Linked DNA regions of Homo sapiens: regions 1 and 3 are each linked to region 2. Evidence: fine-mapped expression QTL. A gene starts in region 2. Each other region holds a variant in brackets. All regions are shown on one strand. Distances are from middle to middle.

Region 1 (11,006 bases), 63 kb before region 2:
TATTTAATAGGTCTGTGAAGGCCATTTCTTCTAGAATCCCAACCTGGACTTCAATCATGTGATTATATTCTCCAGGTGGCCAGGCATAGCTAAGGAAATTTAAGTATTTTTACTCCAGAAAATATCACAATTTAGTTCTTTAGTTGAGATCTTACAAAATAAACAGATTATCTGACTACAGCTAAATCATCTTAGAGATTCAAGCTACTTAAAATTTCTTAAATATGCACTTAACATGTTAATTACAGAAATAACAGAAATGACATATAACTCAGATTGCCCCTCCCTAGGGAGTAATAATCCTGAGGCTTGTTCCAGGATTAAATGTCTTAAATTACTGGTCCTTTGTGGTTTCATCTGAGGCCTGCTTTTGTCCTTGTCCTTTCCTTTTATGCGCCAAATTTATACAGGCATCAGACTTTCACACATAATAACTATCATTTACTTGGCATGCAGGATGAGCTAAGCATTACAGTAGGTCTTAGATACACGACAACAGTCACTAAGGTATTTTACGTGTGAAGGCTTTAGGTAAATAAAACATACCAGTGACCATCTGGGGAGAACAGATGCCTGCAAATGGCTGGGGGAGCCCAAGAAGAGACTCCTAAAGCAGCCTGGCTGGGAGTTGGACGAGGTAGCCCCTGGTGGGCATCAGCAAACAACACCCCTTTTAAAATAAAGGCCTTAGCAGCAGCCTTAGAAGCAAAAGTTTTTCTCTGACCTTCTCCTGCCCGCGTATCTCTCAATCCCCTTCTCCCCTGAGGCTGGCCACAGAAACTAGAAGATGAGTTTAGAAGCCAGAATTCCTTTTGAGGGATTTTTTACAAAATTATACAGAAAGGTGGAGATAAAGAAATTCTGGCCATAAGATTCTGGCCATAAAGTACTTATCTGATCTACACTGTTTGACTGTAGGTTAAAATCCACATTCCAGAGAGTCTTACCCAGAAAGAAGGAATGCTGCTTAGAGAGGTCAAGAAGCGTCTGGACACACAGGCCTTGCTGGGTTTCCCCATTCTGTCTATTCGCATTAGATCAGACCCTTTTTTCCAATTGTGTTTCTACATGGCTGTCTATACTTTCTTGAATCTAAGCATAAAAATGGACAATTTCCCCTGTATCTTTGGGTCTTCATTCTGAAGGTTTCCATATCATCTAAAACTATGATCAAATAAATTTGTATGCCTTTTATCCTATTAATCTGCCTCTTGTCAGTGATTTTCAGCAAACCTTCAGAAAGCAAAGGGGAAGTTTTCCTTTGGCCTTGACACCCCTAAACCATGTCCTTATGGATGCATAAGAGGAAGTGAGAGACAATCTAAGAGGTTGTTGTGATAGGAAAACCCAGGCTGGAATAACAGTGATGGTGGTAGTGGGGATAAACAGAAATACATGGATTCCGGTGACATTAAGGTATTAGAATCAACAGGCCCTGCAGGCTCATAGGAAAGGAAGATGAGAAATGCTTAGACTACGAGTCCTGTCTGACTTTACCTACTGGGTTCACTAAGTAAGAAGGGCCTTTTAAATCTAACTCTTCCTTCACCAGTTTCAGCAGGAAATCTTAGCTCCCATTATGTAGACAGAGTAGAAAAAATAGATGCTATTACATGGAAACATTAAATTATATAACTGAATCAACCAAATTATATTTATTCCTTCAACCAATAAATGTTTGTGGCACTCTTGCTAAACGTAAGCACTGGGCAAGCTCTGGAAATACAGCAGTAACTGAGGACTTTGCCTTTCCCCATCCTGTCCCATCTACCCACTCCTCCTCATGGGAGAGGTGGCATATCCCTTCTGATCATAGCCCAAAGCCTCCTCCTATGCCATGACTCCCATTCCCACAGGACTTCTTGTGACTTCAGCACTTTTTACTGTGACTTCAACCTACGCTTCATTTTCACCTTTGTCAACATTTTTCATGCTCAGATTTATTCCATCTTAAAAAAGTAAAAAGCCTCTCCTTAGGAAATGTATCACTATCAAATGTTAAATGTGCATATACTTCGACCTCACAAATTCTACTTAATTCCTGTACACATTTGGAAAAATATAAATATGCATAAGTACGTTAAGATGTTGAGTGTAACATTATGAGAGACACCAAAATTTCTAAGTAAAACTAAAATATCCAGACAACACTACAGCACAATAGAATAGTATGCTTCTACTTTAGGGAGTAACATGTCTATAATATACAGAACAAAAACACAAACTCTGGCCAACGACATAGCAATAAAGCCAATTTTTGTAATGTAAGTGTGTATGAGAGAGCGAGCAATAGCACATGTACAGAAAAGTCTTGAAGGATACACCTCAAACTATTAACAGTGGCTATATATGAGAGAATGCAATTATGGAGATGATTCTCAGTTATACTTTCTAATGTTTAGAACTTTTACAATGACTCATTGTAAAATATATTGCTTTGTAATCAGAATAAAACAATAAAGATAAAAGGTTATCAAAAAAGTTAAAACAACTTTAATCAGCCTTTCCACTGCACCTATTGCATTATAACATAGTCCTTACTACTACTGATAAGGTCAAAGTACGCTGGCACTCCTCTACCATGGACTCAGCCCCCATCAGTCACCAGCCGGCTCTAAGGTCCATAGTGACTTGCATGCTGCTAAACCTAATGCCCATTTTACATTTTTGCCTTACTTGACATCTCAATGAGCTTTGACACGGCTGGCCACGACTTCTTTTGAAGACTCTCTCCTCTTGGTTTCATTCTCTTAGAGGGTCTTCCATTTCTCTGATTTCCTCCATTGGTGCCTCCTCCTTGACTGCGCCTTGACTTCTGAAAATATTCAGGGCTCCATCCAAGCCCTGCTCCTCTTTGTCTGCTGGCAACTGTTAACACAGGTAGACTAAAGGTTCCAAATGCATTGCTCTATTTCAGCCATCTCTTCTGAGCCACAGATTCACATATCCAACTGCCTATGCAACATCTTGACTTGGAAATGTCCCAGGCATCTCAGACTCAGTATTAACACACAGGACTTATGCTTCCCTCTCAACCACAAACACACTCAAAGCTGTTCTTCAATATTTCTTGTCTGCATAAATGGTAACCCCCCTTATTTGGCTGGTCAAGCCAGAAACCTGGTTGTCATCCTTGACTAGCCTCCCTTCCGCATCCCCCACAGCCAAACATTCACTCTCCTATGGTGCTGAAGAGTTCTTGACTGTCTTCCTCTCTTCATCTCATCCTGCCAAGCCCCTTGCATCTGTTATTGGGACTATTGCACCAACCTCCTGACCGCCCGCCCACCTGCCAGCAACTTTCATCCCCTTTTAATCACTTATCTTTTCAGTAGCCAAAGCAATCTTTGAAAATAAAATTCTGACCCAGTACTTTTCTGCTTTAAATACTTTAATAGCTTCCCATTAGGAAACCACTTTCAAATTTAAGATAACAAACAGATGTTATTTCTGTAATGGGGAATGATATGGTTTGGCTGTTTGTCTCCTTCAAATCTCCTGTTGAAATGTAATCCCGAATGTTGGATGCAGCATCTAGTGGGAGGTAATGGACCATGGGGGTAGATGTCTCATGAATGGCTGAGCACCATCCCCATGCTTATGAGTTCTTGCTCAGTTCACATGAGATCTGGCTGTTTTAAAAGAGTATGGTATTCTCCTCTCTCTCTTGCTCCTGCTCTCGCTATGGGACATGCTGCCTCCCCTTCGCCTTCCGCCATGATTGTAAGCTCCCTGAGGCCCTCCTAGAAGCAGATGCCAACAGTGCACTTCCTGTATAGCCTGCAGAACTGTGAGCCAAAATAAACTTATTTTCTTTATAAATTACCCAGTCACAGGTATTCCTTTACAGCAACACAAGAATGGAATAACATGGGAAAAAATAAGACCAATGATTTTTAAAGAAGGCTGGTTAAAAAGAGACTACAAGCATCATGAGGACAGAAGCTGTACCTATTTAGTTTGCTGTAGAACCTCAGTAGTTAGCCAGAATCTTTGTACACAGTTGACCCTAATACATATTTACTAAATGAATAAATAAGGTAGGGTTGAGGAAGATATATTTTTGTTCATTTTTTGTGCCTTGTTTTATAAGATGAAACTTGTATTCATATTACCTATTCACACACACACATATACACATACACACGTTGATGGAAAACAGTGAAAGAAAAACACAGGAGGATCACTGATGGAGAGAGGCATAGGTGAAGGCATTAACATTTATCAGAAAGATGACAGATGGGAGAAGCAAAGATGAATGTAAACATGCATTTATATATGCATTATATATAAAATATACATATATTCTCTCTCTCTCTCTCTATATATATATAAAAACACATATATGATACAATTTACATGCACACAATGTATATGCATTTTTGGAGGAAGGGAGATAAAAGAAGTTGAGGCAGTAGCCCCTGCAGGTTTCCTTTCCTTTCTGATTTAAGAAAATGATCTACTGAGAGGCCAAGAGGGTGTGGAATAGAGGAAGACAGTGAGAGTTTGAAACAGTTTCTGTGATTGATAGGAGAGCATCTGCTGACTCGGTGTGCCAGGATCAGTTTCCATTCTGCTGGGTTTTTCTTCTGAGCTCTGTAAATATTCAAGACTCCAATTTTCTTTTTGGCTTCCTGTCCCAAGGCAATGTTTTCCCAGAATCAGTGCAAGAATCAAATGTGTAACAATAACCAGGAGAACTATGCAAAATGATTCCTACACCTTGCCTGATGGAGATTCTGTGCTAGTAATTGGTGAGGGGTTGGGTCCCATGTACATGGCAATTTGTGAAGCACTGCCCTTTGGTCTGTAGGCCACAGGGTCACTGATCTCACAACCACATTTTCTCCTCAGTCATTGTACTGACCACAGCTGAGCACAC[T/C]GGGTTACTGATCAAACTCGTCACTCAAAGTCACGGTGACATGCCATGTCCACTTTGTCTTTCCATCCAGCTGAGAAGCAGCAACTTAGAAAAGAGAAAAAAAATATACAGAGATGGGCGTATTATCTTTTCAAACATGGCTTTGATGGGAAGGACACATTTCCTGATGGGTGCTCCCAGGATGGCCATCCTTGCCAGAGGGCAAAAGGGGAAAAAATAGACCTCTATTATCTTTCCTGTTCTTCTGTTCAAAACTAACATTTTATCTGGCTATTGAGAACATGAATCCAAGTGTGCTTTGGAGCTGAACTGTTATCAGCTGAAAATAGCCCAGAGGAAAAAAAATCCACAATTTTTAACCTTTTAACAGCTCTTGTTCATGAAATGTGGGTTGCAATTTTACCTGACTTTGAAAATGTCAGAATTACTGAGACTGACTAAAAAATACAAGGAGAAACTTAACTTCACATTTCTTCAACTGGCTGCCACAACTCTGTTTCCTATTCCGGTGTTCAGTTACATACAATTATCTCAACTTCTTGGAAATAAATCTATGCGTAAAAAGAGATCTTAAAATCATTTTTAATTCCTTAGTCTTATGGAACAGAAATAATGACAAGGCAGGATGCCCAGGATTAAAGAGTTTGTAGCAAATGTGGGAATGGAACCCAAGTGTCCTAAACACTGACCCAGGGGCTTTCCACGTACTCGCCCCATAATGTAACAAAAGAATTACGGTGAAATGGGGACTCAGAGGTCACACAGAAATTTGTTTCAGAAGTGTGATCAAATGCCTTGTAAACAATTAAAAACTCATGTCGGTGAAACTTTATTTAAAGATGGAAGACTGAATATATGCATTTAGCTCTGCCCCCTCCTCAAGTACTACCAGAACATAAACCAATAAAGACAAAGAAAATAGAGGAGGAGAGACAGTAACACAATTTGGGGAGACATTGTGTTAGGCAAGTGCAACTACTTAGCCAATTGGAGAAAGCTAAATACTAAAATAGGAAAGCCTCGAAGCAATTTCATTTAAATTATAAGCCCTCAAGAGGCTGGCAGCACAGGCTCCTCTGGAAGTGGGACTGAAGGTAGGGCAGGAGAATGGTCGTAAGTCTGTTTATTGAGGAGTTGGACCTCCAGATTCCCTTCCTCAAGGCTTAAAGACAAGTGGTTGCCTCCCAACCCCACCCTACCTAGGAAAAGACTTGAAAGGTATTCTCTGGAAAGAGTGAACAGAGGCTCTTCAGACAAGAGGATACTAGGCACAGTTGAGGATGGGGATCCCATACTGAAAAGACAGATTACACAAAAGATTACTGCTGAATGTTGAGACTCCTAGACTTCTACTTAGCTTTCTGACTAGCTGTATTTTCTCTTGGTCTGATTAACTTGGAGGGGTGGGTGGAGGGACGGCCTAAAATTACTAACAGAGTTTCCTAAACAAACAGCCAAACAGGTCACCCTAAAGTGAAGTGCATAATTGCCAAATGCCATCCACTACTACAGAACTTCCAGCCATCTTTCTAGACAGCTACTCAAAAATTAGAAGGGACAAGACTTCCCAGACACTGAGAGGGCATCTAACAGAGAAACAGCAAAGCAACTTGGTGAAGAGGGAGAAATCACATGAAAAAGACGCTTAAAACAAACAACAAAAAACTCTTGCATCATCAGAGATTGAGAAAAGTGCATCCATGAAATAAGGACAAGATGTTACCAAAGGGAGAGAGGGAGAAAGAGAGAAATAGTCAAAGAATAAAAAAAAGAGCTTTTGGAAATTAAAATGATACAGAAGGCTTGAAAGATAAAATTCAGGAAATGTTCAATAAAGTTAAGCAAAAAGAGGTGAAAAATAGGAAACATGGAAAATTGGAGAACCAATTCAGGATAGCCAATATCCAAATAACAGACGTATTCATGGATTAGACAAAATGGAAGGCAAGTAACTGTCAAAGAAATTTCCCCAAATTGAAAAGGATTAGGAATTAAAGAACACCTTTCTCCCACGACTGAAAACAAACTGAAGGACACTTTTTTCCTTTAAAAAATGGAGTTGGGGGTTGGGCACGGTGGCTCACACCTGTAATCCCAGCACTCTGGGGGCTAAGGTGGGGAGGATCACTTAAGGCCTAGAGTTCCAGACCAGCCTGGGCAACACAGAGAGACCCTGTCTCTACAAAAAAATTTAAAAATTAGCCAGGTGTGGTGCATGCATATAGTCTTAGCTACGAGGTGGAGGGTGGTTTGAGCGGGGAGGATAGCTTGAGCTAGGAGTTTGAGGGTGGAATGAGCTATGATTGTGCCACCTACTCCAGCCTGGGCAACAGAGCAAGACCCTATCTCTAAAAAATACATATAATAATTTTTTTAACTTAAAAAAATGAATTGGGTGGGGCTTGCCATAGTGAAAGGGTCTCCTGAGTTTCCACCATACTAATCATTATGGAATTTCTAAGTACTGCGTTCAAAGAAAAAAATCCACAAAATTCCAGAGCGGAAAAGTTTTTCATACAAAGGATCATAAGTCAGAATGGCAGGAACTTTTCAAGAGCAACTCCTGAAAGTAGAAGGCTTCAAAATTCTGAGAGCAGATAATTTCCACCTTTGAATTATATACTTAGTCAAGCTGTCAACTGAAAGCCAGAGAAAAATACAAGCATTGTCAGACCCGCAAGTTTAAAAAAAAATTACCTGCCTTTAACCCTTTCTACATAAGACACTGAGAAATATGCTCCATCAAAATAAAATAGTAAACCAACAAAAAATAAGACATAAATGTAGGGCTCCAATACAAGTTCTCAGGATGGTGGTGAAAAGGAATCCCTCACTCGGCTGAGGTCTAAAGACCAACCTGGGCAGCGTGGAGGAGATCAGAAGGCTGTGGGAGGAATCTCCCCCAAAGGATGAATTTGACAGGATTCCATGCATGGCTGATTACACTGAGAGGAGATTTACAATTGGGTAAAAGTGTGAGGTTGAATTATTCATAACTATATGAAAAACTAATAATATCAGTATCTGCTGTACAGTCTCCAGAGGAAAAGTAATCAAACTATATTATATAGCTCATCTGTGGAAAGTATTACATAGTTATAATAAAGTAAACACTGCATACTGATCTTACCAAAATTATAACACAATTACAATTGAGGGAATGGGGTTGGGAAAGTTTGTGAGAGAAGGGAAGGGGGCTGGAGTAGGTGAAAAAGAGCTAAATACTTCTGCATCAATAGATAATGCCTAAAACTGAAAAATAGATAAATTATAATTTAATTATGTTAACCAGAGATATAGAGGTAATTACTAAAAGAATCAGCTACAGTTAAAAATCCTGGCCTCTGGGGAACAGCGAACAGAAAAGGTGATGCAGCTGGTTTTCATAACAAAACCTGCAACATTATTTAATTTTTGAGTTATGTAAACATTCTAACTAATTATGTAAAACTTTGACTAAAATAAAAACTTTTCATTTCTCCCCCAATTAAAAAAGGCGGGGAGCTCATGGCATGAACACATATAAACGTAAGAATCACTGTTCTGGCACCTACTATATGCCAGGCACGTGCTAGATGCAGAAGATAAAACAGAAAATGTCCCTTTTTAGGAAGCTTATATTCCACAATAAAAACTAAATATAAGTACTTTTAAAATAACTGACTCTGCTTGGAGATATGAAGGAAATAAACAAGTTGATATAGCAGAGATTAAGAGATGGAAGTATTTCGGGTAGGGTGGGTCACAGGAGCCTCCCTGAGGGGTGATATTTGAGACATGAAGTATGAGGAGTTGGCTATGCAGGGCTAAAAAAAAGAGCATGCAAGGAAAAAGAAAAAACAAGACCATAGTTCTGAAGCAGAAAGTATCTTGGTGTGCTCAAAGATATGATCAAAGATCGGTGTGACTGCAGGGCAGTGAAGACATGAGAGGCTGGGGAACAAGTGAGGTAAACACTGACAGGTAAACAATGGGATGGCACCACACCATCACAGAGCATACTTCTGTGGCAGGAGTGGAAACGACAGACCCAGTCATTAGACTAATGTTGAAGTCCAGGTGACGAAGCTGGCCTAAGATGATAGTAGTGGAGACAGAGAAGATACTCAAAATCATTTTGAAGGTAGAAGTACTGGGGGGAGAGGAAGGACAATAGAAGAGAAACCAAGGATGATATACAGGTTTCTGACTTTGTAAATTGGAAGGATGGTGGTACCATTTACTGAGATGGTGAAGACACAGAGCGCAGAGGCAGGATGGGGTAGATGGGACATGGAAGCAAATCAAGAGTTCCTCCCTGAACATGAGACATCCATCCAGGAGTGCTGTCAAGGAGGGAGGAGGGTACGGCGTCTAGAACTCAGAAGAGCTCAGTGTTGGAGATATACACCTTGGAGAGTCAGCAAATTAATGGTATTTAAAGCCCCTGAAATAGATGAGCATGTAGACAGAAGAGGTATGGCTTAAACCATAGCATGAAGAATTCTCAACATTCCCAGGAGGCCAAGTAATGAAGGAAATGCCAGTAGAGGATCAAGAAATGGCCAGTAGGGAAGGGGGAAGGCCAAGTTAGAAGGTAATTTCAAGAAGGCAATAGAAAACTGCTTAAAGCCACTCAGAGATCCAGTAAGATAGAAACGTATCCATTGGAAGCAGCAACACACAGATCTTGAATGACTCTGCCACAATCAATTTCAGAAGAGTGATGGGAAAAGACACCATACGTAACAGATTGAAAAATAAATGAGTAATGAAGAAGCTGTAGTACATGTAGGCAACATTTTAGAAGTTTTGCTTTAAAAGGAGACAGACAGGCCGGGCATGGTGGCTCATGCCTGTAATCCCAGCACTTTGGGAGGTCGAGGCGTGTGGATCATGAGGTCAGGAGTTCGAGACCAGCCTGGCCAATGTGGTGAAACCCCATCTCTACTAAAAATACAAAAATTAGCCAGGTGTGGGGGCGGGTGCCTGTAATCCCAGCTACTTGGGAGGCTGAGGCAGGGAACTGCTTGAACCCAGGAGTCAGAGGTTGCAGTGAGCCGAGATGGCGCTACTGCACTCCAGCCTGGGCGACAGAGCAAGATTCCATCTCAAAAAATAAACATAAAAAAATAAATAAAAGGAGACAGAGAAACAGGGTAAGAGATGGAGACGGATCTAAGGGTCTAGAGAAAGGTGTTTGATTCTTTAGTATTTTTAACACAGGGATTCCAGAGCATTAATTTACTAACTCCTTCAGTCATACAACTTATCGAGCACCAGGATCAATGTCCTTACAGAGCTTACAATCTACTGGGATAGAGACAACAAACAAATGTACATATACTAATTTCAGTTGGAGATAAATGTTTTGAAGACAAAGCAGGTTAAGAGGATACAGAGTAACAGTGACATTTTAGATAGATAAGTCAGGGGTGACAGCTCTGAGTAGGTGACATTCAAGTGAGAACTGAAGGAAGTGCAGCAGCAAGCATCCTAGATGAGAAAGGAGTTGGGAGGTGACAGAGGGTGGAGAGGATGATGAGGATAGTGGCCAGGCAAGGAGTGACATGTCAAGGGACAGGTGTGGCTAGAGCACAGTTAAGAGACACGCAGAGCAGGAAGAGAAGAGGATGGAGAGGTAGCAGAGGCCTTACAGTACATGGCCAAGAGTTTGAATTTTATACTGTTTGTAGAGAAGCCACTACAGACAGTATAAAGGTGTAAAAGAGAAGGATCACTGTGACTGTTCTATGAACTCAGACCAAGAGGTGCATGAATGGTGGCAGGAAGCGACTACAGGAGTCCTTGCAAAACTTAGTAGTGGCCTGGGCTCCGATTTAGGTGTGGGCGCAGGGGATGTTGGGTGCTTGAATTTGAGAATACGAGGTGTCACAGAAAGGCAGGAATCAAGGATGACTTCAGCTTTGGGGCCTGAGTGACTAGGTGGTATCACTGCATAGGTTAAAACAATGGAGGAAGTATAGACTCACGAAACAAATCAAGAATTTGGTTTTGGAAATGTTAAGTTCAACTCATCTACTAAACAACTAAGTGAAGAAGTAAAGCCGACAGCTGTAAAGCAAGGGAGAGATAAGGAGTGGACATAAGTATGTGGAAGTCATCCACATACAGATGGCATTCA
Region 2 (11,006 bases):
CTTTCATAAAGCTGTCAGACCCATTCTTCTCTATTCCATGACCACTGCAGGCATTTCTGACCCCAACTACTGGAAAGGCTTAGCTCTACTGTCTCCTTTCCCAACCCATTTTAGAACGTGCTACCATGGAGATCTTTCCAAAAGCAAATCCAATCCTATCACTCTTTTCATTAACATCCTTCAGGAGCTCCAAATCACATACAGAGTAAAACCCAAAATCCTTAAAGTGTATGGAGGATCCTTCACGGCATAGCCTCTCCCTGCCTTCCCTAGCAGGCAACTATTTGGAACTCCAGACTCTCCTCCGGCCATCTCTGCACTACATTTTCCTAGTCTTTCAGCATCTGACCCAAAAATCTCTTCTGTGAAGCTCTCTCCCAGTCTCTCCCTTCAGTTTTATATGTACCTTTTATTGCAAATCTCTGTCTGATGATGCAGAGAAAACCAAACTCAGGTTCTCCTTCTGTACTCTCAATACAATCAACACAGAATACGTTTATCACCAGATGTGGGAAGAGTTCTTCCCACATGACAAGCAAGTAGTTGTTCAGCAATGAACGCCAGCTGGGCGTCCTCTAAATCAACTCAATTCGGATACTATCCACCTGCAGTAAGCCTCAGAGCTCAGATTGAGGGCTCAGTCCTACAAGGCTGCCCCCCCCCACTTCCGACACCAATCACAGGCCCCAGGTTGTTTTGCCTGGGTTTCTGACCCACCGGCTACAAATTGAGGTTCTTGCAACACCCTCTTTGGGTTCCATTAATTTGCCAGGGCAGCGCACAGAATTTTTGGGTTCTTATGGAGGCTTTATTACATAGGCATGATTGATTAAATCATTAGCCACTGGTGATCAGCTTAACCTTCAGCCTGGCTCTTACCCCTCTTCAGGTTGGTAGATGGGGCTGGAAGTCCAAACCTTTAATCCTGCCTTGGTCTTTCCAGTGACCAGCCCCCATCAGGAAGCTACCTAGGGGCTGCCAGCCATCTGTCAACTTATTAGCATACAAAAAGACACTTACCACTTTGAAAATTCCAAAAGTTTTAGGAGTTGCATGCCAAGAAACTGGAAGAATGCCTTATATATTTCACAATATCACAGTCTGGTTCTAAGGAACTTTTCTCCTGGAAGACACAGGTATGTCTTACTCATTTTCAGTCTCCCAACACCTGACCCAGCACCTAATCCTGAAACTAGCACAGAAGGATTGCTCAATCAATGTTTATGAAGGAAGACTGGGGCTAGTATCAGATTTATAGGTGATTAAACCTGAAGTAGGTAATAAGGAAAGAGAGGTGGGTGTGGGAAGATAAGTCTATGTAAAAATGTGACAGTTGAAAAGGGAGCCAATAGCTGGATCATTATCTCTCAAAGGTAATGGACCATGTCCTCTGTCTACCCCTCAATGACATACATGACCATTAGTGATGGGGATCAGACAGTAAACTACCATAAACAGACTAGGAACTCAAAGCAACCAACCAACCATCCACAAACAAAACCTCATTATCTGAACAGTCTGAATAGTTCCTGATAGTCTTTTTTGGAACCACTTTTCCTCCTTCAGCAAAGCTTGACCACAGAGAACAGAATTGAAGAAACAAAATAAAGCAGCATACTAATCTGATTTCTGCATTCTGGCTACAAAAGCTGTTCCTATAGCATTCTACATGAACAAGAAGAGATGCTGAATTTAATCCGCTGATGAGGGGGCGAAAAGCAGCCAAGGACACTCTTTTGCACACTTGGCAGGGTAGCACACAACCTAACTCCCAGGGGCTTGCAACAATATGTGATCTCCACCAGCACAACAGGGGCTTCAAACCACACATTTCCCACTACTACTGCCTGGATGTGGCTTCAGTGGTTGGTTGTTGGCTCTGCTTTAGAAATAAGTGGCCTATTGCAAAAATGCTCTAATGCCAACAGGTTGCCACACAAGCACGCCTTTGGAAATAATTTCTGCTGGCTGTAACTTAAACAAACAAGGAAAAGACATCCATAGTGAGATGTACTATCCTTGATTCTCCAGATCAGTTCATTCTAAACTAGGAGGCAACACTGACATAAAGTACTGAACAGCCAGGCATGGTGGCTCACACCTGTAATCCCAGCACTTTGGGAAGCCGAGGTAGGATAATCACTTAAGCTCAGGAGTTTGAAACCAGTCTGGGCAACAGTGAGACCTTGTCTCTACCAAAAAAAAAAAAAAAAAAAAAATTGGCCAGGCATGGTGTCACAAGGCCTGTGGTCCCAGCTACTCAAGAGGCTAAGGTTGGAGAATTGCTTGAGCCTGGGAAGTCAAGGCTGCAGTGAGCTGTGACTGCGTCACTGCACTCCAGCCTGACAGAGGGAGACCCTGTCTCTAAATGAATAAATAAAAGTACAATAAAAATACAGTGTTTCAAAAGTAAGCAGGAACCCACTGTTTAAAAGGCTCTAAATTCCAGCTACTAGAGGGCACATTTCCATATACATACATAAAGCATCTCTATGATATAATCAGGGACCCCATCCAGTTAGAAAGTTTTTTTTTGGGGGGAGGGGGAGGTCTCTTGCAAATTAGGCCATTATAACGCCCAATGGTATACCCAGGAACTCGTGTCAAAATAATTCTAAGGCTGGGTACAGTGGCTCATGCCTGTAATCCCAGAGCTTTGGGAAGCAAAGGCAGCAGAATGGCTAGAGGCCAGGAGTTCAAGACTGCAGCGAACTATGATCTTGCCACTACACTCTAGCCTAGGTGACAGAGCAAGACCCTGTCTCTAAAAATAATTCTCCCAGTCTGAATTATAAAGGTAATATTAATAGAGGGATTTCACAGAAATCTTCCGTACCCAAGTGGGTTTCAAACTATTATACAACTACTGACAGTGACAATCAAGTACTAGGAGAAATATTAGTTAATAGCGTAAATACAGACGTGCATTGCAAAATTAAAGGCAGAGGTTAAAATTATCTTCATTTCACCAGTCTCCTCTCCCACAGTTGGAAATAATAATTATTTTGTAAAAGGCTTTGGACCACTATCAGCCTACTCCTGGTAATCTTTAAAAAGGCTTATTCTTTTGTAAAGGCATAAACTTAACATTGGCATAGTTAAGTATTTTCTGATATAAAATCACTACAACCCACATTAAATTTGTACTTCCAAAAAAACAACCAACTAGGTGGATATGGTGGTGCCTAAAGTCCCAGCTACTTGGGAGGCTTAAGTGGGAGGATCGCTTGAGCCCCGTAGGTCGAGGCTGTAATAAGCCATGACCACATCACTGCACTCTAGCCTAAACGACAGAGCGAGACCCTATCTCAAAAAAAAAAAAAAAAAAAAAAGAGAAAGAAAGAAACAGAAATCACATTCATAGATACTGGGTGTTAGAACATCAGCATATCTTTTCATTCACTGAGAAGAAAAAAATATTGCCAAGACCTGTTTAAATGGTACCTGCTGCTTGACGTAAAATATGTTGAGATGACCCCTACAGTAGAGACCCCAGGGCCCCACAGGAATAGTGGGAAATGCCCTACTAATATTAACACTAAAGTATTAGTATTAGTAGTTTCTAGAGGGTGGGGAGGAGTAGAGATATTTAACTTTTTCTTAAGTCTATCTACACTGTTTGACTGGACAAAACTAGCATGAATGACATGTCATTAAAAATAAAAAGAGCTTACTGCCACACGCTTAAGATGAATTTATACGATGCCTCAATAGGTAAACACAGACTAGACCAAATTACTTTCTAAACTGAGATCTACTGCTGGCACAGTAAAACAAAGCTCAGAGCCTCTTGCTTACTTCAGTTTCCATTTGAGCTTCTGCCCTTATTTACTTACAATACTCATTATAAACAGTGCAGCTCACCATAAAAGACAATAATACTTTCCTGGGAAACAGACTGTGTCAATTTTATTGTAACTTTTTAAATTTCACTCCTATATTTTTATGTAATCATCAGGTACTACTTAATCTTGCTAAACAGTAGTAACAGCCAGAGTGACCCAGTGGTAAGAGCATTAATCTTCACTGGTTTTACAAGTCAGAAAACCTGGGTTTGAAAGTGTGAGAAGCTGGGCAGACCAACCTGTGCGCTTCAGTTTTCTCTCCTATAAAAACTACTACTATTTGCTCTCTCCTTAAAGATGAATAACTAGTAAATTGTTCTTAAATGAATGAATGAAATGTGAAACTAAATCATGGAGTGTAATCTCCTCTATTCGATTTGTCCCTGGACAACCAAGAAGTTACCAAATTTTTTTGATCGAAATATTCCGTGCCCAAAATGTAACAGAAATAAAAACCACACCCAACTCCTAAAATTAAGTTACTTTTAAAGTTATTAGATAACAACAGGGCTTTAGAACATCAGCAGGATGTTCTGCTTTAAAATTGATTTGGCATCCAGGAGACTAAGCCGAGTCGCCACAACAGACTGGCTTGGTAATTTAATTAGAGTCTTCTGGAGGGACACATTATATCATCATCCCCCGACAGTGTTCTCTTTAGGGACCTGATTTTCTCTCTAGTCCTCTCATTCCTTTCCCCTTCCTCACCTCCTCTCATCCCTTTTGTTTGCCCTTTTTTTCTTTTTTTGCTCTTAAAACAGCTCTCCCTCCGTTCGTCTTGTCACTTCCATGCATTTTTAACTCTAACTAGAAATGGGTCACCCCAGGTTTGCTCCCCAAGCCCCAGGGCCCCTCAGGACGAGTGAAAAAGGCCCTGCGGTCCTCCCTGCCTGGGGGAATTCCTCCTCCGATCACAGCTCCGGTGGGCTCCGCAGATGGGAAAGGGTTTCCAGCGCGCGCCTAGCGGCCACAAATCACTTCCCGGGGCCGCCCCGCCAGGCCTCAAACCTCCCAGAGCCGTCGGTCGGCTTTTACTTTAACGAGGATTCAGATGGGTCACACCCTGTCCTCCAAATGCGGGCCTGCTCCCCGGACCCCGCCCAGGGGGCTCGCCCCAGTGCCGAGGCTCCTGGGCAACCCTAGCACTCTGCGAGTCGGGGAAGTGACCCCAAAGTTGCTTCTGAGTGGAGACTTCCGCACGCAGAGGCGTCCCCGCAGCTGCCAGGCTTTTCAGGGGCAGCATCCCCCGCCCGTCAGGAGCCTGTCCTCGGGGCCACCACGCGCCCCGCGCCTCAGCCCCGCAGGGGCCGCACCGGGGCCTCAGTCTGCAAGCAGCCGGGGACAGCGGGCTTCCTCCCCTGCCCGGAGCGGCCGAGCGTCTCGGCCAACCTCCCCCGCGGAGAGCACAGCGCCCCCGCGCAGTCCCCGAACTTCTTCCCGCGTCGGCTCGGGCTCTCGGGTGGGGACGCGGGGACCCCTCGCTCACCGATATCCCCATCGTCGTCGTCCTCCTCCTCCTCCATTTGTAGCAAAACATTCCTGCTCATCTTTTTCATGTCTCCCTCAGAAGGCGGCTCCGAACTTGGCGCGAAGTTGGGGGCTCCCGGGTTCCAGAACGGCGCGGCTCTCCCAGGGGCCGGATCGGGGACCGCGGGGCGTGTGTCGCTTGGGCTCAGGGGCCGCTGAGCCCAGCCAGCGCCGGGGAAAGCCGAGCCGAGGCACCCACCGACCGGAGCCCAGAGCCGGAGGACGCCTCTCGCCTGCCGAGCGGAGCCCGGAGACTGAGCATGCCCAGTGCGGCCGCCGCGGCTCGCTGCGGAATGATTGAACTTCCCCGGTTTTACGAGGCGCGCAGAAGGAAGTCGGCAGGCGAGACTGCAGAGGGAGTAGTGCGATCCTGCGCGCGGGGGAACTAGCTGGAGGGCAAGGCGGGAACACGTGAGTGCGGGAGTGGACTGGGTTCCCTGAGCATTGATCCCAAACAGGGCAGCTTTTCGTTCCAAGGTCGTCTGTGGACACACACTGTGGCTTGCTTTGTTTTAACGTCTGATACTGGAGAGGAGGGAAATGCTGCTGCAGCACAACTGCAGAACCCTGGAAGGCGAACTCGTTTGAATGGCTTTTAAAGGCGACGTGGAGCTAATAATGGGGGGATCTTAAATTACTCTAGCTCCGAAGTGGGAAAGTGGAATCTGTACGGGTAGGTTAAGATTACGGTGGAGTCGGGGTGGGAGGAGAGGCAAAACTCAGAGAATAAGCAAAAGAAGAAGGGGCGGGACGGACGGGAGTGGGGGTGGAGAGAATTTTCTAAATAAACGTGTGCACAAAGGCAGGAGGATTTCCGCATACATTGAGGTCGCGGAGAGTGGAGAAGCGCCCCCTACTCCGCCCGCGCGAGCACACAGGGAGTGGTCGGAAGATAATCGCTGAAGCGTCCAGCCTATTTGTACAATTGAAACTAGTCCTCTGTGTCAAAGAGGGAGAAGAAGCCGAAGACCACTAGAGTTAGATGTAAACTCTTCTAAAGCAATGTGGAAAGCTATAATAAGAGAAAAGAAAGTCGTGAAATAAAATTAAGGCAGAGAGTTTTTATTTTTATTTTTAATGCTTTCCTGGAAACCAAAGGGACCGATAGGACAAATACAAAGGGATTTAGTACTTTAAAGACCCTTGGAGTTGTTTGAACGGCAGGTTTTGGGGATCGCGTGTCTACAAAACTTTTTTCAAAAAAGCTGGTACATTCAGGTTGTTCAATTTTGACTTCTCAAAAGGGCTAGAAGGTATATTTGAAATCTTGGTTATATGTGTTATTGTCTACTCATTGAAATTGTTTATATTTTTTCCACTGAAGTGCTAGGGTTATCACAATAACACTAAATCTACTGTGCATGTTTTTTCTTCCACATACTTTTTTTAAGACGGTCTCGCTCTGTTGCCGAGGTGGGAGTTCAGTAACTAGAACTACAAGCGGAGCACACCACCATGTGGGGCTTATTCTTAAATTTTTTTGTAGAGATGGGTGTCTCACTATGTTGCCCAGGCTGGTTTCGAACTCCTGGCCTCCAGCAATCCTTGCACCTCAGTTTCCTAACATTTTTAATGTTCTCTCTGAAAGAAAGAAAACATTGGGACCAATCTTAAGTGGGAAAATAGACATGAATATATACATGAAAAGACATGATGAAATTACTTTTAAGAAAATACCTGGGAAACACTATACTTGCTTCTTGAGGTACTTTTTTTGAATAAACAGAATTGTTTTTAGTATAAAGAGACAACAATACAGTACTCTGAAGATAGGAGAAAAAAATGATGGGAGAAGAAAGATGAGAAGAGATTGTTTCCTTTCACTGAACACTCTCCCCTGAGCTTGTGAAACTCACTAAAAGTAGAAACTTCAAAAGTGTTTTGGTTACATGATCAATTTTTACAATTTTCTTTTAACAAATTTTTGTGTAGTACTTTTTATGTGCTAGGAAAAGTTTTACATGTTTTATAAGCATCCAGTCATTCAACCCTCATAACAACCCTAGAAAGTGTTATCATTTTTCTTCAGGTGTGAGGCAACTTGAGCAACTTGTCCAAAATCACACAGGGAATAAATAGTGGAGCCAGGATTGAAACCTCAACAGCTTGTTTCAGAATCAGTGCTCATAGCCTCTTCATAAACCACCTCCAGAGACATGTCCCAATCCATTTTTTTTTCAGATCACTTTTTCCCCCACCAATTCAAAATTCAAAGTCTCATCAACTCCCTGCCATAGTTCTTTAACCAAATGTTCTCTCTTTTTTTTTTTAAGACAGAGTCGCGCTCTGTCACCCAGGCTGTAGTGCAGTGGCTAGATCTCGGCTCACTGCAAGCTCCACCTCCCAGGGTCACGCCATTCTCCTGCCTCAGCCTCCGGAGTAGCTGGGACTACAGGCGCCCACCACCACGCCCAGCTAATTTTTTGTATTTTTAGTAGGGACGGGGTTTCACCGTGTTAGCCAGGATGGTCTAGATCTCCCGACCTCGTGATCCGCCCGCCTCTGCCTCCCAAAGTGCTGGGATTACAGGCGTGAGCCACCGCGCCCGGCCTTGTTCTCATTTTTATGGACTAAGACTTCGGTCAAAGTTACTTTGTAGTTAAAAAATTATCGAAGTTGACTTTGCAACAAGTTTTAATTAGTCATTTAGAATTCTTCACAGATTTTTAAGAGTTTACATTTTTCTTCTTTGATAAATGTTGCAGCGAAACATTGTTGGCCTTATATGTAAAGGTAACTGTTGCTAGAAGGGAACTCTATTATTAGTAAATTCCATTCTTTCCTCTAATCCATTTTATTTCCTACCACTTCTCTTCTGCATTTTTTTTCAGTTGAGCAATCAATATATGCCTCAGAAATAGGATAATAGGCCTATGTAAGAACCACACATTTAACCCTGAAGAATTATCATCCATACAATAATAATTTGTGAAATAAAATATTAATATACAGCCAGGTTATTTGTATTTGCAAAGCTTTTTCAAGTCAGGGATCGCAGAACAATTATTTTCTCATTCATTCATCTGATTAAATACAACTTTTGGCCACCAGGATATTCTTTCTCTGCCCATCCTGTAAAAGTTGTTGCTTTTCTAGCTTCAGGTCTTGGGTCTCTTTTCTTCTCATCTTTCCCTATAGAACTCATTCAGTCCTATAACTTTACTATCTAATCCAGGCAGGGTCAGCTTGATGGGCATTCAAACAGTGTATTCACACAGAGCCCTACACTCTTATGGGCCTAACACTTGGGATTTAAATGTTCTGTGGTTAATGCCCATCAATGATAGACTAGATAAAGAAAATGTGGTACATATACACCATACTATGCAGCCACAAAAAGGAATGAGATCATGTCCTTTGCAGGGACATGGATGAAGCTGGAAGCCATTATCCTCAGCAAACTAACACAGGAACAGAAAACCAAACACCACATGTTCTCACTCATAAGCGGGAGCTGAACAAAGAGAACACATGGATACAGGGAGGGGAACAACACACACTGTCGGGGGGTGGGGTGGGGGGAGGGAGGGCATCAGGATAAATAGCTAATGCATGTGGGGCTTAATACCTAGGTGATGAGTTGGTAGGTTCAGCAAACTACCACGGCACACGTTTACCTATGTAACAAACCTGCTCATCCTGCACATGTATCCCAGAACTTAAAATAATTTTTTAAAAAAGATTCTGTGGTTGCCATCCTGAAATTCTTTTCTTTTCTTCTTCTACTTTTATTTTAGGTTCTGGGGGTACATGTGCAGTTTTGTTATGGGTAAATTGTATGTTGCTGAGGTTTGGTGTATGAATGATCCTGTCACCCAGGTATTGAGCGTAGTACCCAATAAATAGCTTTCCAACCCACCCCACTCCCACTCTCCCCGCTTAAGCAGTCTCCAGTGTCTATTGTCTCCATCTTTGTATCCATGTGTATTAAATGTTTAGTTCCTACTTACAAGTGGTAATGTGCAGTATTTGGTTTTTCTGTCCCTGCATTAATCTGCTTAGGATAATGGCCTCCAGCTGCATCCATGTTGCTGTAAAGGACATGATTTGGTTCTTTTCTATGGCTGCATGGTATTTCATGGTATATATATATACCACATTTTCTTTATCTAGTCCATCATTGATGAGTGTCTTGGTTGATTCCATGTCTTTGCTGTTGTGAATAGTGCTGCAGTGAACATACCAGTGCATGTTCATCTTTTTAGTAGGACGATTTATTTTTCTTTGGGTGTTTAACCAGTAGTGGGATTGCTGGGTTGAATGGTAGTTTTGAGTTCTTTGAAAAATCTCCAAACTGCTTTCCATAGTGGCTGAACTAATTTACATTCCCACCAGCGGTGTATAAGCATTACCTTTTCTCTACAACCTCAACAGCATCTGTTGTTTTTGACTTTTCAGTAATGTCCATTCTGACTGGTGTGAGATGGTATCTCATTGCAGTTTTGATTTGCATTTCTCTAATGATTAGTGATGATAAGCATTTTTTTCATATATTTGTTGGCCACGTGTATATCTTCTTTTGAGAAGTGTCCGTTGATTTCCTTTTGCATGTTTTAATGGGATTGTTTCTTTTTTGTCTGTTGAATTAAGTTCCTTACAGATTCTAGATATTAGACCTTTGTCTGATGCATAGTTTGTAAATAATTTCTCCCATTCTGTAAATTGTCTATATACTCTGTCGATAGTTTCTTTTGCCATGCCAAAGCTCTTTAGTAGGTCCCACTTGTCAATTTTTGTTTTTGTTGCCATTGTTTTCTGGGACTTAGTCATAAATACTTTGTCAAGACCAATGTCCAGTATGGTACTTTCTAGGTTTTCTTCCAGGGTTTTTATTGTTCTAGGTCTTACATTTAAGTCTTGAATCTGTCTTGAGTTAACTTTTTTATGTGGCGAAAAGAAATGGTCCAGTTTCAACTTTCCGCATATGACTAGCCAGTTATCCCAGCACCATTTATTGAATAGGGAGTCCTTTCCTCATTGTTTGTTATTATTGACTTTTTAAAGATCAGGTGATTGTAGATATGTGGCTTCATTTTGGGGTTCTGTATCCTATTCCATTGGTCTATATGTCTGTTTTTGTACACATCATGCTCTTTTGGTTACTATAGCCTTTGGTTTGAAGTCAGGCACTGTGATGTTATTTGTTCTTTGTTCTAGCTTTGTTATTTTATTTATTTTATTTTATTTTAGTTATTTTATTTTATGTTATTTTATTTTATTTTATTTATCTGAGACGGAGTCTCGCTCTGTTGCCCAGGCTGGAATGCAGTGGCCTGATCTCGGCTCACTGCAACCTCCACCTCCTGGGTTCAAGCCATTCTCCTGCCTCAGCCTTCCAAGTAGCTGGGACTACAGGTGCACACCACAACACCCAGCTAATTTTTATATTTTTAGTAGAGATAGTATTTCACCATGTTGGCCAGTCTGGTCTCGAACTCCTGGCCTCAAGTGATCCACCTGCCTCAGCCTCCCAAAGTACTGGGATTACAGGTGTGAGCCACCACACCCAGCCCAGCTTTGTTATTTTTGCTTCGGATTGCTTTGGTGATTTGGGCTCTTTTTGGTTTCATATGAATTTTAGAATACTTTTTTCTAATTCTGTGAAAAATAGCTGATAGATTGACAGGAATAGGA
Region 3 (11,006 bases), 200 kb before region 2:
TCCTAGCACTTTGGGAGGCTGAGGCATGTGGATCACTTGAGGCCAGGAGTGCGACACCAGCCTGGCCACTATGGTAAAACCCCGTCTCTACTAAAAATACAAAAATTAGCCAGGTGTGGTAGCACGTGCTTGTAATCGCAGCTATTTGGTGGCTGAGGCATGAGAATTGCTTGAACCCGAGAGGTGAAGGTTGCAGGGAGCTGATATGGTGTCACTGCACTCCTGTCTGGGCAACAGAGCAGGACGCTGTCTCAAAAAAAAAAAAAAAAGTCATATTTGATTCAATGCTCTTTTAAACTGGACATCACATACATTTTCTCTTAAAGCTCAATTTGGTAACAAAGCCCCAAAATAACTACAGTAGTGCCTCATTTAATATTTAATCAGAGAATGATGGTAATAACATGGTCCATCTTTGTAGAAAAGAATCCATCTTTATAAAAGAACTAAAGTTTTAAATTTGTTCTCCCAACATTTATCCCTGTTTTCTCAAAACAATTCCTGTTTTGGGGATCATATTTATAAATTTATTTATATAATGGTATCATCAGGGTTCACTCAGCTATGGGACTCTCTCTCCTCATACAGAGTGCTATCTGCTTGTTATAATTTTTTACCTAATTCTTTGTTGTCAGATATCAAGTGTTAACTGCTGTTAGTGTATCTTCCTCAGGTAGGACATCTCTAATTTTATGCCTGTAAGCTATTAAACCTAGAAGAGTTTAATTTCTGATTAGAATTGTGGAAAGTAAGAATAAGCAGATTTGATGCAGAATTGTAAAGAGGCTCCACTAGGTGTAACACAAACATTTATTTTGGGCTTATTTCTGGTTTCCTGGTTGCATCATTGAGAATCTGAGTTAGTGAAGGCTTTGAGGAGTTGGACTAAATAAACTTTAAAGCCTCCTATTTTAGGTAAAACTCTATGGTCCAGGAAAAAAGGTTGATGACCTACAGTTCACAAACTTTATCAATTGGTAATTTACCTGGTACATACTGTCCACTGTTGAACTCACCAGCCATTAAAATCGATGCAGAGAACTTTGGAATATTTTTAGATAATACTGTTCAGCTGAGATTTCACATCTCTTATCTTTGTATGTCCCTGTTATGTGAGGTGCTAGTTTGCCATCATTCAATATCTTCAGATTGTGCTTGAATAACACAATAGTATTAACAACTGAATTATCTTGGTTCTTGGACCTCTTGAAGTTTCTCTATTTCTATGACTTTTCTTTGGAATCAATCTCCCTGTAATCGTTTGAAACTCTCAACTTTAAATCTTTATGGTTTGGTCTGAAAGTTTTACCCCTGGTCTGAAAGTTTTACCCCTAGTCTTCATTAACTTTTTAATAAATATACATATATATACATTTTCTGAGTTTCACTCAAGAGAAAGCTATGGGGAAAAAATGTCTCTAGCAGCTTGATTTAAATGACACCAAAGCACCTGATTGATCCTGAAGTTATAAAGAAATAAAAATTTTAAAAATGACACCAAACAGAATTAAGTCACAAGAAAAACCCTTTTAAAGATGAAGTGCATTTTTAAACAAGTAAAGCAGAACTTGCCTGCATGTGGTATGGTTACCCAGGTCAGAGTACGGGTTTCCCTTGCTTTTGTTTTTGAAGTCTGCGACTTTGAAGATGGAGAGAGTGTTGTTGATGTACCCTTCCATGGTGTAGGAAGTGTGGTCCCCGTAGGGAGGGACGGAGAAGGACCAGTAGTACACTAGGCGGGGGATCATGTCCGACGTGAAAGCTATGATCATGGCCTATTTTGGGAGAAAAACAAAGCGAAAATGAAGTTATAGTTTTTTGTTTTTGAGACGGAGTCTCGCTCTTGCTGCCCAGGCTGCATGGCACGATCTCGGCTCACTGCAACCTCCACCTCTTGGGTTCAAAAAATTCTCCTGCCTCAGCCTCCTGAGTAGCTGGGATTACAGGCACGTGCCACCACGCCTGGCTAATTTTTGTACTTTTAGTAGAGACAGGGTTTTGTCATGTTGGCCAGGCTGGTCTTGAACTCCTGGTCTCGAACTCCTGGTCTCAGGTGATCTGCCCACCTCAGCCTCCCAAAGTGCTGGGATTACAGGCGTGAGCCACTGCACCTGGCCGAAGTTATAGTTTGTATAGGTCAGGTTAACAAATATGCCAGAATTACTATTTTCATCGTGTCAATTTTTTTTAAAGATTCAGAAATCTTAATTTTTTCTTAACTGCAAAATATATGCAGATAGTGAGATAAGATCTTGCTCTGTTGCCCAGGCTGGAGTGCACTGGCATGATCACAGCTCACTGTAACCTCGAACTCCTTGGTTCAAGTGATCCTCCTGAGTAGCTAGAATTACAGGTACACTCCACCATGCCTGGCTAATCTTTAAACATTTTTTGTAGAGATAGGGTCTTACTATGTTGTCTAGCCTAGTCTGGAACTCCTGGCCTCAAGCAATCCTCTCAGCCTCTCCAAGTGCTGGGATTATAGGTACGAGCCACTGATCTCAGCCTAGAAGACTTGCACATGTAATCAGAGTCAACATTATGAAAATAATTGAGCTTTATATAATTGATTTAGCTCTTTTCATAAACACAGAAGGTAAACTGCATGTTTTCCTTGATCTAAATTTAAATAATGACCTCTAAGTTCACTTTTTTCCTGTATAGTATTATGACTTGTTTACACAAGTCAAACCATGACCTGATTTGTTTTAAACTCTCAGTACATGGTTATGTTTGTTGCTTCATTATAGAGTGTGAGCATTTATTAATTTTAACAAAATTTGGGTAGTAGAATTATATTGGGGTTGTCCCATTCATAGTCAAACAATAATGTCTGTTTAGTCTGATCTAGTATCTAAGTCTCTAAACTTCAAAAAGATTAAGTGGATGAAGTTATGAAAATTATAAGTTGAACAACAACATACAGAAAATTTAGTATGTTCCTAGATAAAAGGAGTAAATATGGGCCAATCATAAACCTGTGTATCAGAGAGACATCTATTAGGAGGTAAAGCTATTCTGAATTATATGAATTTTCTCTAAAATTCTTTAATTTGGGCTTTAAACTCTCCAGTGTGTAAAACTGGTTGGAAGGAAGGAGAAAGGATTTTTACTTTAAACCAAATTCTATGTGAATAAAACAGCTAAATGATTGTCATTGATGAAGCAGAAAAGTAGACATGTTTTTGGCTTAACATGATTTTTAATAGTATTCATCTGAACATATGGTTTAGGCATAGTGAGACCACAAACCAAATCTCAGGCAAAGCAAGAAAAAACAATTAGGGGGCTTTTCTATTACAAAATTTCCCTCACTAGAACCAGCTTTGTCATTTCCTCTGATGTGAAAAATGTACATATACATATGAGTGTGTTTCTGCCTGTCAGTACTGGGGAGCCACACGAATATTTTACCTTTTTTCCCTCAGATTTCAATAGATTAAATTTTGCTATTATCATTTAACTCAACTATATCTTTTTATAGAATCACTGGCAGATGTGCATCAGAAGCTACAAAAAATTCCAACAAGGAAGATAATTCTATTGTCTTCTGACAAGATACTTTTCTTCCTGAATTGAGCTGCTCTGAGAGACATGCTGCAAGAGCACAAATAAATGCAGTGTGTTTCATTTCCCATGCTGTTCTGCACACAGTTTTCCATTTATATAAAAATAAATTAAAATTGGTCTTCAATAACAGATGCTCTGGCATGATACAACAATGTCAATTCAGCTTATTTATTGAACCAGCAGCTTTAAAATGAATGATTTTATACCAAATTCCTGCTTGATGCCCACTCTCATCCTGGTGGTTATTCTCTTTTTGTAGACAGTAGGTTGTGAGATACACACTGGGTGTTTGAGGGAATAAGACACACATTTAATGCTTGCACAAGCACACATATAAACATAGATGTCTATGTATGTGGATGTATAACTGCCATCTTGGAAGTATAACAAATCCTAATATGGAAAAAGGGATTGCCCATAGTTTAATCAATGTCACAAATCTAATAAGCAGTTTTCCTAGGTTAAGTGATAAGAAAAAGCCATTATTGGATAAGAACCAATAGCACCAATTAGCCAGAGTGAATGTCTGTACACATACACACACTGAGTCGCCTTGGAAACAGCCAATCCTCCATCTGTGCTCATGGAGTAGAGCCATGGCATGGATGCTGGGAAAAGGTACCTAATACAATCAATCTAGAATGCTTGAGGAATAGGGAGAGTTTGAGTCAACTGAATTTTCTGGTTAGTTGAAGGTAAAATAAAAACCCTTTTAGTTTCAAACTTTGTTGCTGAAAATTTTCTTAAAGCACACAAGTCCATGTTCTTGTCCAGCTTAGTGTACTAGAGCATATTGAACGTGCTGTCATGTTCATTGTTTTATGACTGAGGAACTTGAAAGGCCTCACTGCCATTTTTCTAAACAGCAGTCTTCATTTTGCAGCACAGTAGATGTTGAAGGTGTGGGGTACCTGGGTGAAAGGAAACTGACATACCCCAGTAGTTGGTTTTTGTGTGCGATTTGCAACTTTCTCCAAATAGTACAGATAGCATGCAATTCAGATAAATGTACGGTTCTGGGGTAGGGATGACAGCTAGGTTCCAGATAACTTGTTTTATTGTATAAAACTGTAACCATTGTCCAGACAGTGGTTGCTTTTGGAATTCCTGTGCCTCCAATTGGGGTACCTGTCAGAGTCCTCACAGCGTTACTGTTAATAACAATGATGAGTAATGAAGATGATAAAATAACAGCAGCTAACATTCAATAGAAACGAGGCTTCATGCATTAACTCAATGAATTCCCTAACACTGTGGTTGGTATGTACTATTCTTATGATATGTGGTAGGGAATTAATAATTTTACAAATAATAAAATAGGGCTCTGGAGTGGTAAGGCCTGGCTCAAGATCATGCAGCTCAGAGCTACAGTGCTGGGAAGTGGAG[T/C]TCGGGTCTACCTGACTCTAGAGCCTACAGTGCTCAGTAACTTCCCTCATCCAGAGCCTAAACTACAGGCACTGCCAACTTCTGTTGTTTTGGCTGGGGACTCAGGGAAGATGTGGCTTAAGAAAACAAAACTGGGGAATCACTTTGTTAGGGAGGTTCACCTGGGAGTGAGACTGTCAGTGAAATATGGGAGGAAATGGCCCTAGTTTTGGGATACTTCTTGGGAAGGTGGTCCTCTAATGGGCTGGCATGAAAATTGCATTGCCTGAGAACTTCCTGTGTGCCTGTACATAAAAATGACACTGTTCAGATGGCCCATAATCAATGAATACAGGCTGTAAACAACTGAGTTCTGTCCCCTCACAGCTGGGATACATACAGGGCATGAGGCTGCTTCAGCCAATGACCAAAGCATGGTGAGCAAAGACCTAAGGGTGGGGTGGGAAGGGTGATGAAACCCACCCACCTTCCTCCTTTAAGAGCTGCTGCTCTGGAGTCAAGGAAGGTAATTAGGAGTGCACAAAGTGTTTATACTTCACCATCAGAGTCAATATTTTAGGGTGATGCTTTGGAATATGTAGTAGTAAAATATGGTAGAATGATCTTATTTTAGGGCCCTCAAACTCTAAATGAACAGATTTCTACCCACATTATAAAAAAAACATTTTCTGATAACTCCTTTTATAGTTATGTGAGGATTAAAAGTGTTAGTACTTCTTATCATTACCATATTTCATACTGAATAAAAACTTTAGCAAATGAGCAATAACAGTACCTGTATAGGAGGTCTTGACAGTTAAAAATAATTATATACAAAATGAAAATACATTTAACAAGTGGTTATATATAGCAACTATATCATTTATGTGGATGACAGACTTAGCATCTTCCTCTCATTTTAAAAAACACTAAACATTTGATTCCTTAGGTAGCAAATCTAATGCATCTTCAAGGTCTTTACTCTGTAAAGCTTAGGTCTACTCACATTGGTCACCACAGCCAGAATTGCTATTCCTTGCATGATGGGCTGCCATGCTCCAATGTCTTGGGCTTTCTCTGGTACCAGGCGTCTAAACTGGGTGGTCAGTTTCCATGCGTCCACTCTTATTTCCAATATATTGTTCACGAGAGCCAACAGAGGGGCCAGTGGAAAAGAGGCCACAAATAAGGTGACGAACCCAAACTGAATAACTGTCAATGGAATGGACACACATCATGGAGTGGTGGTGGATGGAAGGACAACATATTTTCCTTTACTCTTGAAAGAGAAAGGCAAACGAACTAAATCCCAGAGAGAAAACACATCTGTGGTAAATAATAATTTAGTGTTCAACAGTGAAAGAATTCAAACAAAACACAAATATAAAATCTCTGGAAAGAAGATTAATTATAGCCTGTTTCTTTCACATGTATACACTTAATAGGAACAATATATTTAGACATCTTTAGTCAACCAGAATTATTCGCTGGTAATAAACTTGAGACATCATAAGCATATTATTCATTCTCAGTGTTGAAATAGAATGTTGAAAGAAGATTTGTGGTTTAGGATTTTTTTTTTAAGAAAAAAGAAATATTGTGGCATTATCTAACAAGTTAAAGACAAAAAGAAATGGACCCATGGGAAGGCTATACTTAGAGAACGTTAGAAGAAATATGCTGAGAACAAGCAAATGAGTGAGCTCCCCTGAGTCTGCAAATGCAAATGCAGTGCATTCAGAGAATTTGACAGTAATAGAAATCACAGAAATATATGTGATAAAAGTGTCTTAATAAATTATAATATCCTTCCTTAAGAATCTTGAAGTTAGTTGCAGTCCTTGTGGTCATAATAAGTCAAAATTTGAGTGGTGGCTTAGAAGTTCTTTTCTCCTTGTTTGTAATTGACACGGCCTTATTAAAAATGGGGCAGCAGAGATTTTGGGGTAAGTGATACCACGGAGAGGAAGAAGTAAGAAAATATCCTCAAGTTTTAGACCCTGCCCTCCTAACTGGCAGACCTTCAGAGGAAACATCTACAGATATGTAACTAAAACTGTGGATGGGAGGAAAACATAGAGTTCCATTAGGCCTCATGCTCAGACAAGGGGCAGGGATGACTCTGTCAGGAAGGGCAAGGCTGTGGAGGGTGTGGCGAGGCAAGCAGAGCTGGCATTTGCTTCTGGTCAGAGAGCCAAAGGGCATGTTGCAGAAGAGCAGACAGGGCTAGAAGGATCCAGTAAGTCCCACAGGCCAGGCAGGAACACTCATGCAGAGAAGTCAGCCAGGCAAGGACCAGAGTTGGTGATGCTACAGAGTCATGAGCAGCAGCAATAAGCAGTGATGTCAACTTCCCTATGACTCACCCAACCCTAAATAACTCATCAGCCCGCAGGGCATGCAAGTAATAGCCATGTGTGGAGTCAGCCCGTCAACTGTGGTAAACTAGCAAGCGTGTGTCCTATGGAAAGGGACAGCTCATAGTTGCCATGTTGGAATGAGGGCTCCATGTTGCCAGATCTCCTGATTGTTCAAGAGAAGCCAGAGATTAGGATTATGTTATCAGTAAACCTTGTTAAAAATCCAAAAGAGAAAAGATACCATTTATAATGACAACAAAAGCATAAACTATTTAGAAATAAATTAATGAGAAAACTAAGACCACTATGATAATTGACTTAAGAAAAAACAAATAATGATGAATGAATGAGTGGTAGGATGTGCCAAACTCTTGATTGGGCAAACTTGAATTCAGGGACATATCAAATTTTTTTTCCACAAAATAATTTAGAATTCTAATGTAAATTCTGTTAGTAATCCCAAATGGATTTAAGAAAAAAAAGCTGACAGGTCAGCCAGGCATGGCAGCTAATCTCTGTAATCCCAGCACTTTGGGAGGCTGAGGCGGGAGGATTATTTGAGCCCAGGAGTTTGAGACCAGCCTAGGCAACATACCCTGTCTCTACAAAAAATACAAAAATTAGCTGGGCATGGTGGTACGAGCCTGTAGTCTCAGCTACCCAGGAGGATGAGGTGGGAGGATTGCTTTAGATGAGGAGGCGGAGGTTGCAGTGAGCCGGGATTGTGCCACTGCACTCCAGCCTGGGCAACAGGGCGAGACCCTGTCTTTCAAAGAAAGAAAAGAAAAGCTGAAAAGTGATACTAAAGTTCTTCAAGAAATATAAACAGGTAAAATAATGAACAGGGATGTTTGCATAGACAGTATTGGGAACATTGTGAAAAAATAAAATGGGATAGCTCTGGGAGATATTGAGTGTATTATAATGCTATGGTAATTGAAACAGTTTAGAACTAGTATATGAATAGATAGTATGAATTAACCAGGGTGAATTTTAAGAGGAGATGCAAATATTCATGGGTTTTTATATATTATAAAGTGATACTTTGAAGCAGTGGATGCAAGTATTGACACAGCTAGCTAAGTCATGGGAAAAATTGGTATGGGGCCATCACTTCTGACACCAAAATAAATTCCAGATGGATTAAAAATATTATATTAAAAATAAAACACCAGAAAAAGCCCATATAATTTGTTCTGATATTCAAGTGAGAAAAATTTTATAAGCAACTTTTGAAACCAAGAATAACAACAACAAAAAGTCAACGCAAAACACCCACTGAAAAAAAAACAACCCTTGCCTGCAACTTTTTCATAATCCTATACTGCTCTCTAATGCTTTCTCTGCTTGCTTCTACATGTTACAGTTGAGTTTTCTGAAGGAAGTGTCCACCTTCACAACAAGTGGTAGAGTAACTACTCCCTGAAGCCCCGCATCCTGCTGAGACCCTCACCACTGCACTGGACCTACTCTTGCTAACTTTGCCAGTGGCTGCATGTTCATAAGCTGATGTTCCTTTTCAGTCCTGATTTTTGTGATTTCTTGTAACATGGCCATAAGAAATGTACGGCCAAGATTTATGTGACATGGTCAAACAGTCCCCCTGCTGTGGAATATTTGTTTCCCCTTGATTTCTTTTTTACTTAGTTTTAAAAAGTCAAAATATATATTGAAAAACAAAAAAACTAAAAAAGCCCTACCTAGCTATAGCACTGCTTCCACTTCCCAACCCAGGTCTAGCAATTAGGACTTGTGTAGGTGCTGGCTCTTCCTTTCTTCCCCCTCTGTATTTCCCATTATGCCCCTTTTCCATCATGTCCAAATTCCTCTGAAGCAACGTTATCATCTCCCAAGCCTTCTCTGTGTTGACACAACTCTGCTAGACTTCTTCCCACTGCTCTGCTCTTCTTTTTCTTTGTGAGCCTCCCTCACTCTTCACTCTTCAAATGTCCCTTTACCCCCGGGCCTCATCATCAATTCTCTGTCCATCTCTCTTGATATTCCTGCTAGGCATGCCTGATTCACCCTCGTGGCCTCACCCATGGCTCCTCTGAGCTCCTGACTGTTGTGTCCAACTTTCTAATGGACATTGCCTTTCAGATGTTTTCATGCTAAAAATATCCAACACTTAGGCATTTCCTAGAGAACAGCTCCTCTCCTTATGTTCTGCCCTGCATATATGGTCTCCTGGAAGTTATCTTAATTTTATTCCTCATCTGCTATGCAATTCACCGCTTTAACACTTACCAAATCCATCTCCCTCTCTCTACTCCTATGCCCACTATTTAGGCACCTATCACTTGTTGTCTGGGTTACCTGCTGTAGCCTCCTAAATCATCTCCCTCCCACCACGAATCTCATCCAAAATATTATCTTCCATTCTGCTGCGTGATTGATCTTATTCCACATAAATGTTATGCAGTTATCTTGTTTACAAATATTCCAGTGGATCCTAATTTCTTTAAGAATAAAGTTCAAGTCCTCAGGCTAAGCACACCAGACCCATCATGATATGGCCCCTGCCTACCTGATATTCCCACCTGTGAGTCCTTTGTTCACTTGCCATTCTTTGATCAAGCTATTGTACTTTTAAATATGTCCACCTCTCCACACAAAATGTCCATTCTCTTCACCATACTTTAGATAACTAACTTCCATTCACCCTTCAAAATCCAGTTCAAATATCACCTGCTCAAGGAAGTCTGATTAGCATTCTCCTTAACCATGCACCAAGCGCTGAGCTCCGTGAGGGGAGGGACCAAGTGCCCTGGTATCCCCAGCAACTGAGAGTGTTTGGCACAGCAAGTGCTTAATAAATGTTTAATGGATGAATGAGTGAATGAATGAATGAACAAATGAAGAGCTGGAGGACTGCAAATCCTCCCAATTACCTAGTTGCCCTTTTGGAAAGCTCATCCTGCAAAGGTTAGGAGACTTCATGGCAGGTGATGGGCTCGAACCAAGCAGAGATGAGAGCATGAAGGGAAGAAGGCCTGAGTCCTGGAGAGTGCAGCAGAGGCATCGGTGGGTTCAGCATAGGAGGAAGAAAAAGAAAGGGGTACGAGGAGCTGCTGAAGAATAGCTGATCTTCATTACATGGAGAAAATCATATATGAAGGTCATTGTTTTAGCAGATTTTAAAAAATTAACTTGGAGACAGATGAAAGTGAGATCAAGGTACCACGGCAAGGGTGGAAGAGGCAGTGCCAGAGACAAACAGGGCCCACTCATCACTTCAGTGCACTCTGTTTATGGCACTTGCCCACCAGGAAGGCCTCATCAAGTTCTCAGGACACCTGTGTCTGCAGTACATTACTGAGTACAAAACAGTATTTATGGCTTCCAGGTTTGAATACAGACAACTACGTTTATTATGTTCTGTGTCTGTGTACTTGGAGTCAGGAACACTCTTAGAGAAGCAATTTGGGTTAACAGCTCAGAGTTACTCCAATAATCTCAAAGGATGGTGGGAAATTCACTAAATAAAAAACGTTTCACTCAAACAGGTCATACAGAACTTGGTGAGAAGTGGGTGAAGGATGTTAATGTGAAATCAACTAACAGTTTTATATGTGTGTTGGAGCTCCAAGTTCAAGTTGCTTAAATGTTTATGAGTATAAGGTTCCAGGCACTGGCGCTCTAGCAGAGGACGCAGTAGCTGCCTCCATCGGGCTCGGTGCAATGGGGAGAGAGGCAGGCACAGAGCGTATA

The links.
Region 1: its variant is fine-mapped to the expression of ANO6 in whole blood (INTERVAL, PIP above 0.99).
Region 3: its variant is fine-mapped to the expression of ANO6 in whole blood (INTERVAL, PIP 0.97).

What each region holds. Positions count from the first base shown.
Region 1 is chr12:45,274,197-45,285,202 of GRCh38, reverse strand. The region is part of intron 1 of ANO6 (anoctamin 6); the gene reads right to left. Among named protein-coding and RNA genes, the nearest start is that of ANO6, 64 kb to the right of the region's middle. The variant T/C (reference allele first, on the strand shown) is at 4,883.
Region 2 is chr12:45,210,717-45,221,722 of GRCh38, reverse strand. ANO6 (anoctamin 6) reads right to left here and starts at 5,628. Exons shown (of 20, transcript NM_001025356.3): 1 at 5,332-5,628. The coding sequence starts at 5,401. It also overlaps the pseudogene PLEKHA8P1. RefSeq lists enhancers at 4,623-4,752, 5,763-5,862 and a silencer at 4,993-5,302.
Region 3 is chr12:45,411,840-45,422,845 of GRCh38, reverse strand. It overlaps ANO6 (anoctamin 6), which reads right to left. Exons shown (of 20, transcript NM_001025356.3): 17 at 5,942-6,147; 18 at 1,573-1,775. The region is part of intron 5 of LOC105369743 (a long non-coding RNA gene); the gene reads left to right. Among named protein-coding and RNA genes, the nearest start is that of ANO6, 200 kb to the right of the region's middle. The variant T/C (reference allele first, on the strand shown) is at 4,957.